2 separate regions of the Homo sapiens genome follow, and region 2 is linked to region 1. The links come from fine-mapping of genetic effects on gene expression. Tissue or cell type: whole blood. Region 1 holds a variant in brackets; the other region holds the start of a gene. All regions are shown on one strand. Distances are from middle to middle.

What was found. PIP is the estimated chance that this variant, and not a neighbour inherited with it, causes the effect.
Region 2: it holds the start of RNASEH2C, and the variant in region 1 is fine-mapped to the expression of RNASEH2C in whole blood (INTERVAL, PIP above 0.99).

Annotation. Positions count from the first base shown.
Region 1 is chr11:65,837,103-65,842,102 of GRCh38, forward strand. All of the region lies in intron 1 of SNX32 (sorting nexin 32), which reads left to right. Among named protein-coding and RNA genes, the nearest start is that of SNX32, 5.6 kb to the left of the region's middle. The variant A/C (reference allele first, on the strand shown) is at 2,452.
Region 2 is chr11:65,717,848-65,723,067 of GRCh38, forward strand. RNASEH2C (ribonuclease H2 subunit C) reads right to left here and starts at 2,951. Exons shown (of 4, transcript NM_032193.4): 1 at 2,740-2,951; 2 at 2,395-2,570; 3 at 2,198-2,317; 4 at 1-1,962. The coding sequence starts at 2,911. The coding sequence ends at 1,936. KAT5 (lysine acetyltransferase 5) reads left to right here. Exons shown (of 13, transcript NM_182710.3): 11 at 743-902; 12 at 1,026-1,107; 13 at 1,200-1,757. The coding sequence ends at 1,334. RefSeq lists a silencer at 2,637-2,876 and an enhancer at 3,027-3,096.

The sequences.
Region 1 (5,000 bases):
AAAATACTATTTAAATAATCCAAAAGAGGACAAGAAAGAAAGAATACAGGAATAAAAACAGATGGGACAAAGAGAAAGCAAAAAGCAAGATGACAAGTTGGTAGCCTGCTACATCAGTAATTACAATGATTATGAATGGACTAAATTCTCCAATTTAAAAAAATATTGTCAGATTGTATTTTGGAAAAAAAACAACTAGAGTTTGTTAAAAGAGACATATTTTAAATATAAGGACACAGAAGGGTTGACATAAATGGGTGGGAGCTGGGCATAGTGATGCACACCTGTGGTCCCAGCTATGTGGGAGGCAGAGGTAGGAGGATTGCTTGAGCTCAGGATTGTTTGAGGTTACAGTGAGCTGTGATTGTGTCACTGCACTCCAACCTGGGACACAGAGTAAGACCTTGTCTTTAAAACAAAACAAAACCAAAAAAGGGCCAGGCACAGTGGCTCACACCTGTAATCCCAGCATTTTGGGAGGTCAAGGTGGGCAGATCACTTGAGGTCAGGAGTTCGAGACCAGCCTGGCCAACAGAGCGGACCCCCATCTCTACTAAAAATACAAAAATTAGCTGGGCATGGTGCCACACATCTGTAATCCCCACTACTCAGGAGGCTGAGGCAGGAGAATGGCTTGAGCCCGGGAGATGGAGGTTCCAGTGAGCCAAGATCTCGCCACTGTACTCCATCCTGGGCAACAGGGCAAGACTCTCTCAAAAAAAAAAAAAAAAAAAACGAAGAAGAAGAAGTATATTAGAAATAAAGAAGGATGGCTGGGTGCGGTGGCTCACGCCTGTAATGCCAGCACTTTGAGAGGCCAAGGTGGGTAGATCACCTGAGGTCAGGAGTTTGAGACCAGCCTGGCCAACATGGTGAAACCCCGTCTCTACTAAAAATACAAAAATTAGCCAGGTGTACTGGCAGGCACCTGTAATCCCAGCTACTCGGGAGGCTGAGGTAGGAGAATCACTTGAACCTGGGAGGCGGAGGTTGCAGTGAGCCAAGATCATGCCATTTCACTCCAGCCTGGGTGACGGGAGTGAAACTCTGTCAAAAAAAGAAAGAAAGAAGGAAAGAAAGAAGGAAGGAAGGAAGGAAGAAAAGAAGGAAGGAAGGAAGGAAGGAGAAATAAAGAGGGACATTTTATAATGATGAAAGACTTGATTCCACAGAAAGGTAAAACAATCCTAAATTTATAGGCACCTAATAATATAGCATCAAAATATGCAAAATAAAAGATGACAGAACTAAAAGGAGTAATAGGCAAACCTACAATTAAATAGTAAGTAATTGTATTTATTTTTTAGAAATGGGGTCTTTTTATGTTGGCCAAGCTGGTCTCCAACTCCTGAGCTCAAGTGATCCTCCCACCTCAGCCTTCCAAAGTGCTGGAATTATAGGCATGAGTCACCATGCCCAGACCAGTTAGAAATTCTAACACAATTCTCAACAACTGTTAGAACAAGCAGACAAAAAAATTAGTAAGGATTTAGAAGATTTAAATAACATGATTAATCAACTTGATCTAATTGACTTATGTAGAGCTCTATACCCAACAACTGCAGAAAATACATTATTTCAAATGCACATGAAACATTTACCAAAATAAATGAAATGTTGAGCTATAATGCAAGTATCAATAAATTTTAAAAGACGAAATCATAGATTATATACTCTGACCCAGAATTAATGTGGAATCAAAACAAAAACATAACTAGATTCCAAAATATTGGAAATTAAGCAACATGCTTCTAGATAACTCTTAGGCCAAAGAAGAAATTATAATGGAAATTAGAAAATATTTTTAAATTTATGATTACAAAAATATGACATATCGAAACTCATAAGATACACAGTTTCCAGAGGGAGATTTATACCACCACATGCATATTTTAGAAAAGAAGAAAGCCTTGAGTATATGACACTAAAGAAAATAAGTAATTATTATTATTATTATTATTTTTGAGAGGGAGTCTCACTTCATTGCCCAGGCTGGAGTGCAGTGGCATAATCTCAGCTCACTGCGACTTCCGCCTGCCAGGTTTAAGCAATTCTCCTGCCTCAGTCTCCCGAGTAGCTGGGACTACAGCTGTGCCCCACCACGCCCAGCTAATTTTTTTGTATTTTTTTTTTTTTTTTTTTTTTGAGACGGAGTCTCGCTCTGTCGCCCAGGCTGGAGTGCAGTGGCGGGATCTCGGCTCACTGCAAGCTCCGCCTCCCGGGTTCACGCCATTCTCCCGCCTCAGCCTCCCAAGTAGCTGGGACTACAGGCGCCCGCCACTACGCCCGGCTAATTTTTTGTATTTTTAGTAGAGACGGGGTTTCACCGTTTTAGCCGGGATGGTCTCGATCTCCTGACCTCGTGATCCGCCCGCCTCGGCCTCCCAAAGTGCTGGGATTACAGGCATTTTTTTGTATTTTTAGTAGAGACGATGTTTCACCATGTTGGCC[A/C]GGCTGGTCTTGAACTCCTGACCTCAGGTGATCCACTCGCCTCGGCCTCCCAAAGTGCTGGGATTATAGCATGAGCCACCGCACACCGGCTGGAAAATAAGTAACTAAAAAAATTTTTTTTGTGAACCATGATCACACCACTGCACTCTAGCCTGGGTGACACAGTGAGACCCTGTCCCAAAAAAAAAAAAAAAAATTATCAAGCTGAATAAGCAATATATAAAAGGATAATACTTCATGAACAAGGCCTTCTTCCAGGAATGCAAGGTGGTTTAACATTTGCAAATCAATCAATGAAATTCAGCATATAAACAGATAACAAAGGCCGGGCGCGGTGGCTCACGCCTGTAATCCCAGCACTTTGGGAGGCCGAGGTGGGCGGATCACCTGAGGTCAGGAGTTCGAGACCAGCCTCAACATGGAGAAACCCCGTCTCTACTAAAAATACAAAATTAGCCGGGCATGGTAGTGCATGCCTGTAATCCCAGCTACTCAGGAGGCTGAGGTAGGAGAATTGCTTGAACCTGGGAGGCGGAGGTTGTGGTGAGCCAAGATCGCGCCAGTGCACTCCAGCCTGGGCAACAAGAGTGAAACTCTGTCTCCAAAAAAATAAATAAATAAATAAACAGATAACAAGAACATCCATATGATTATCTCAATCAAAGGAAAAAGATTGATAAAAATCAACACTCTCATCAAATTAGGGATAGCGGGGAGCTCCATTAAGCTTCATTAAGATACCCTTGATTAAAAAAAATATCTAAAATCACTTTGGGGTTAAATTTAAATGCAGTCCCTCTGAGATTAGGAACATGTCATCATATCATCACTTCCACATTGTACTGGAGGTCTTGGCAAGTATAATAAGGCAGTAAAAAGAAATAAAGGTATAAAGGTTGGAAAGGAAGAACTAAAACTGTCATCATTTTAGATTATAGGACTGTATATGCAGGAAATCCAAAAGAACTGGCCAGGAAGGTGGCTCAGGCCTGTAATCTCTGCACTTTGGGAGGCCTAATTTAGGAGATCTCTTGAGCCCAGGAGTTCGAGACCAACCTGGGCAACATAGTGAGAACCTATCTCTACAAAAAAATACAAAAATTAGCCAGGCATGGTGGCAGATGCCTGTAGTCCCAGCTACTCAGGAGGCTGAAGTGGGAGGATCCCTTGAGCCTGGGAGTTCAAGGCTGCCATGAGCCAAGATGGCACTACCACACTCCATCCTGGATGACAGAGCAAGACCCTGTCTCAAAAAAAAAAAAAGAATCTACAAACGATTAAATTAATAAGTGAGTTCAGCAAGATATTTTAAAAAATTATTAAAATTAACAAGTAAATTTGTGGGGACCAAGGTAAATATATAAAAATCTATTATGGTTTTTTTTTCTTTCTTTCTTTCTTTTTTTTCTGAGATGGAGTTTCACTCTTGTCACCCAGGCTGGAGTGCAATGGTGCGATCTTGTTTCACCGCCACCTCTGCCTCCGGGTTCAAGGGATTTTCCTGCCTCAGCCTCCTGAGTAGCTGGGATTACAAGCGCCCCCCACCACACCTGGCTAATTTTTGTATTTTTAGCAGAGACGGGGTTTTACCATGTTGACCAGCCTGGTCCTCGAACTCCTGAGCTCAGGTGATCCACCCGCCTCGGCCTCCCAAAGTGCATGAGCCACCTCGCCTGGACTTTTTTTTTTTTTTGAGACAGTGTCCTGCACTGTCATCCAGGCTGGAGTGCAGTGGTATGATGGTGTGATCATGGCTCACAGCAGCCTCGACCTTCTGGGCTCAAGCGATCCTCCTGCCTCAGACTCCCAAGTAGCTGGGACTACCTGTGTTTGCCACCACACCTGGCTAATTTTTGTATTTTTTTGTAGACATAGGGTTTCGCCATGTTGCCCTGGTTGGCCTTGAACTCCTTGGCTCAAATGATTCTCCTGCCTCAGCCTTCCAAAGTGCTGGGTTCACAGGCATGAGCCACTATGCCCAGTCTATTGTGTTTCTATATACAATTAGAAGATGAAACTTTTTAAAATATAATTTAAAAAGCAAAGAAAGGGCGCCTATAATCCCAGCTGCTTGGGGGGCTGAGGCAGGAGAATCGCTTGAACCCAGGAGGCAGAGATTGCAGTGAGCCGAGATTGCGCCATCGCACTCCAGCCTGGGCAACAAGAACAAGACTCTGTCTCAAAAAATAAAAAATAAAATAAAATAAAAATAAAAAGCAAAGAAAAAGAGAATCATCAAATACCTAGGAATAAATCTCACAGAAGACATGCAAGACCTTTACACAGAAAACTACAAAACATTAAAGAAGACCTAAATAATTGGAAAGATATTACCTGTTTTTAGATTGGAAGATTAAAAATTATAAATTATAAAATTACAAAGAGATCTAGTCTTCCAAGATTGATCTATATATTTGATATAATCACAATCAAAATCCCAGTACATTTTTGAGGGGTAGAAATTAACAAGCAGAATATCTGTAGAAATGTAAAGGACCTATAATAGCCAAAATTATTTTGAAAAGAAAGAATAAAGTTGGAGGCTTTGC
Region 2 (5,220 bases), 120 kb before region 1:
GGGTGAGGAAGGGCTTCTAGAAGTAACAAACATCCCAGGTCCCTGACTGGGGAGAATGAAGACACTGACCAAGAGATGTGAAGCCACTCAGGGCTGTGCAGGGTCTGAGGATCTCACTGGGGACGGCCTCCCAGCGGCCAGCTATCAGCACGAGTTGGAGGGAAAGAGCCATGGTGGGGGTCAGTCACGTGGCTCCCAGGAATGGTCTCCCCGACTTAGGAAGCACCTTGGTGCACCTTTTCTCCTTGCATCCTCACAACCACCCAGTCAGGCCACTCAAGTCTTACAGCAGGTGACACTCCCAAGGTCCCAGCTAGGAGGACTTTGAGAATTCAAGCATTCTCAGGTCTGGATTAGAGACAGGAATCTGTCTCCACTTCCTTACATGGCTAGACACAGAGCCCGGGATGGCAAAGGAAAATTGGAGGCCCCTTCTTCCCATGAGCCATTTTCTCTGCATCCCCTGCCCATAAGCCTTCACTGGCCTCTGATCACCCTCATGGTTGACTGCAGCTGCTCCTCTCAGTGCCCTCATGCCCTCCACTGTGCTCAGCGCACGGAAAGAGTGAATACTCAGTTCTTCCTGAGGGAACTGAGGCACAGAGAAGTGGAGGGCATAGAACTGCCAAGTGGCAGGGCCATGATAGGAACTAGGCAGCCTGCCTTGGCAACCTGTGTTTTTAAATGTTGCTTATGTTCATCTGTGACCTCTTACTCACCCTCTCCTGCTCCATTGCTTTAGGCTATGAACTCTCCAAAGTGGAAGGGAAAACAGGGACCCCTGAGAAGCCCCTCTCAGACCTTGGCCTCCTATCCTATCGAAGCTACTGGTCCCAGACCATCCTGGAGATCCTGATGGGGCTGAAGTCGGAGAGCGGGGAGAGGCCACAGATCACCATCAAGTGAGCCTGGCGCTGTCTACCTGGGGGTACATGGCATGGCTTGTCTGTTCCTGGGCTTTCTCTCTCAGGGCTCCTGGGGACAGATAAAGGTCCTCAGGGAACCTGACCTGTGCTCTCCCACAGTGAGATTAGTGAAATCACCAGCATCAAGAAGGAGGATGTCATCTCCACTCTGCAGTACCTCAATCTCATCAACTACTACAAGGTAGGGAGGCAGGCAGGGGAGACAGGTGTGTGGGATGCAGAGTGCAGTCCTCTGTGGGCTGACCACCTGCTGAACCCATCTCCTCTGCCCAGGGCCAGTACATCCTCACACTGTCAGAGGACATCGTGGATGGCCATGAGCGGGCCATGCTCAAGCGGCTCCTGCGGATCGACTCCAAGTGTCTGCACTTCACTCCCAAGGACTGGAGCAAGAGGGGGAAGTGGTGACCAGACACTGCCCACTGCAGTGCCAAGACGGCAGCAGGACTGGGGCTGATAGCCCACCCCGCCCCCACTGCAGCTCCCACAAAGCACTCTAAGGGAGATGGGGCTGAGGACAGCTCAAAAAGGAGAGGACAGGCCTGGCAGGGGCCCACTGGTGCCCAGCACCAAGGCGAGCTCCGGGCTCAGACCAACTCCAAGGTCAGCTGGCCACAGGCCCAGGCCTCCTCTGAAGCAGGGACCAGAGGGAGCCAGGCAGCTGTGTACAGTGAGAAGGGATCCGGATGGGGGAGCTCTGTACAGAGGGCTGGTGATTGTAAAAATTTCTTTTGTAAAGTAGAAGTTGGGGGTGGGGTGGGTGCTGGCTGCAAAAATTTCTGGCTTCTCTTACCCCTATTGCCCCCGGCAATAAATTGTTTCTATATGCCAGAGCCATGCAAAGTTCTTGGTGGGGAGGGGGAAAGGGCCCATGCTGGCTTAGGGGCTCTAAGGCGCCCAGACTCACAGGTGCTGTGAAGAGCTCCTTTATTGGGGTGATGGAATCGGTTCCAAAGAGCTGGTTTACTGCTGTGAAGGGATCGCAGCTTTGAATTTCAAGCTCTGGTTCTCAGTCCTCGGGCACCTGTGCGTGAATCTGCAACAGGAGTCGCCTCTACTGTTGGACTTGTAAGACAGGGCGGCAAGCTGGCCCCCATACCCGAGGAAGGACCCAGCTGTTCAGAATAACCGCTTCTAGACATGCTAGGAAGAGTGGTCAGGGAGCTACGCTTCCCACACACTACCCAGTAGAATCCTCCAGGCTCCGTCTGCGCAATTGTGCTCCCCAGCCCATCCACCCGGGGGCAAGACGGAACTCCTCGTCTACTCACCGCTGCCGCAAGGCTGGGCCAAGTTAAGGCCCCACGCACTTTGGCATCCGGGCCAGGGATGGTCTCCAGACCCCACAGGGTGAAGCGGCTGAAGTTGGCAGTGGCTCCAATGAAGCGGTCCTGGGGAAGGGGCCTGGCTCAGCATCGGGACTACAGCTCCCGCCCGCACCCCCTTTCAACCCTATCCCTTTGCTCACGAAGTCCCGCTCCAGCGGCTCCTCCTCTTGGTCGTCAGTCCCGGAATCCCGCAAGGGGTCTGGCTTCCCCATCGACACCTTCTTCTCTTCTGTCACCATCACGTATCCCACGAGGCCAGGCGGCACCGCCACCTCCTCTCCCCGTAGACAGCGGCCCCGAAACGACACTTCGAGTCCTGGAGCGGGAGGCGCAAAGGGCCTCAGGCAGGACCCACGCTGGGTCGAGCCCGGAGCTGCCCTCCCGCCACCTCCGGACGGACCACGATCCCCAGGAGCCCAGGCGATGAGAAGCGCGCAGGCCGGCGCGGGGGCTGCCGGGAGCCGTAGTCCGGCCGCAGGGCTCACCCTCGGGGCCCTGGCGGATGGCGGGCGTGAAGAAGCGCCCCACCGGGGCGGGCCCGTCCACCGCAACCTCGCAGGGCAGCAGATGCAGTGTGGCGGGTACGGCGTCGCGCAATGTGGCGGAGCGCAAGTGGACGCGGTGCCTCTCGATGGCCGCTTCGTCGCCGCTCTCCATCCTCCCTCCTACGCGACGCCAGGGCTCGCGAGCTGACACTGAAGCTGGCGCGGAAAGCGCGCAGGACCTCTCAGGAAGCCTCCGCGGGGCCTCACGGGAAGCCGCCGCGGAGCTTCACGGGAAGTGTAGTCCCCTTACCCCCTAACGCTTTCCCTGGGTTCAAGTCCTAGGGTTTTCCAGTTGTGTTTTGTTTTTTTCCTTCCTTCCTTCCCCCCTCCCCTCTTTCCTCCCTCCCCTCTCCCCCTCTCCTTCCCCCTCCCCCCTCCTTCCCCCTCCCCCCTCCCCCTCCTCCCTGCCTCCCTTCCTTCCCCCCTTCCCTTCCCTTCCTTCCCGTCCTTCCCTCTTTCTTTCTTTTTCTTATTTATTATTATTTTTTTTTGACAGAGTCTCGTTTTGTCGCCCAGGCTGGAGTGCCAGGCACGGTCTCAGCTCACTGCAACCTCCGCCTCCCGGGTTCAAGCGATTCTCCTGCCTCAGCCTCCGGAGTAGCTGGGATTACAGGCGCACACCACCATGCCCACCTAATTTTTGTATTTTTAGTAGAGACTGGGTTTCGCCATGTTGGCCAGGCTGGTCTCGAACTCCTGACCTCAGGCGATCCTCCAGCCTCGGCCTTCTGAAGTACTTGGATTACAGGCGTGAGACACCGCCCCCAGCCGGGTTTTTTTCTTTTATTGTTTTTAATGGCACATGTCGTTGTAAAAATCTAAAACGATTCTGAAAAGTACTCTTTTTATATTGATTAGTAGGTAGGTTATTCATTTTTAGTTTATTAGGGACATCAACCCTTTTCTTAAATGCATTGAAAATGTTTTATCTGTGGTCTGTCTTGCAAACCTGTGTAAAGGTGATTTTTGCTGGACAAGGACTTATTTTTGTGGTTGTTTGGTCTTTTAGACAAGGTCTCACTCGCCTAGGCTGGAGTGCAGTGGTTTGATTGGCTCACTGCAGCCTCGACCTCCCAGGCTTAATCCATCCCCCATCCTCAGCTTCCTGTGTAGCTGGAACCACAGGCCTGCGCCACCACGCAGCTAATTTTTGTATTTTTGGTAGAGGTGGAGTTTTGCCATGTTGCCCAGGCTGGTCTTGAACTCCTGGACTCAAGTGATCTGCCCACCTTGGCCTCCCAAATCACGCTGGAATTACAGGCGTGAGCCACTGCACCCAGGACAAAGACTAATTTTTTGTAGTCAAATTTATCAACACTTTTCAGTCTTTTAGATTTCACAATTTTCTCTCTTTGGTTTCTCAGCTCTTCTCTAATGTTTATTTGTTCAGACACCCAACTTAGATATATTTTTTCAAGTTCTCACATAAAACAAACACAAAACTGGAAATTTAGATTTAAATTGCGTTTAATTTATACATCCCTGCACATCTGGGAGCTGGCCTTGGTATTCTGTTGAATATAAACAATTTCAGAGAACATCAGCATCGGACAAGGTCACTCTGTGACCGTGAGGGAGCAAGACAGAAACAGAACCACTCCATCGTCACATCTGAATGCTGGCAAAGGTGAACACTGTCCAAACCACAAAAGGCATGAAACATCCCTCTTTCTCCCATAAGAGAGTGACTGTTGTTTCCTTACCAATTACAGCATTAGCCTCCAACTAATCTTCTCTCCTTCTGGGCAAGACTCATTAAGATAGTCCGTCATAGACATACCCCCACCTCTGACAGCATCCAAGCCAGAGAGAAGCCTGGCTTCCCTAAACCCTGACTGAAATCACTGAACATGGGCACAAATCCTCCTATAAGTCCTTTCTAGCACCCTCTTATTGAAATTCCCCAGAGTGCAGGAGTAATATACCCAATTTGTTCAACTGCAGATGTATTCCTGGTGCTCTTTCACTAGAGTGGCAGATTAATTTAGAAAAAGGCTTGCTTTAGTTTTCTATCAGGAAAGACATAATTCAATTTATTCACATCTCCTTGGATATCTGTACAGTTGTGAGGTTTTGTTCATATATAATAGCTATTAATACATATTGTAAAGTTTATTTCTTCTTAGCTTATATTAATAATTGTTTCTATTAAGAACTGAGGGGCTGGGCATGATGATTCACACCTGTAATTCCAGTGCTTTAGGAGGCCAAGATGGGGGAGGATTGCTTGAAGCCAGGAGTTTGAGACCGGCCTGGGAAACATAGCAAGACTCCGTTCCTACAAAGAAAAAAATTTTTTTAAACATGAGTGGGGCACAGTGGCATGTGCCTGTAGTCCCAGCTACTCAAGAAGCTAAGGTGGGAAGATCACTTAAGCCAAGGAGTTTGAGGCTGCCGTTCGAGTCACGATTGCACCACTGC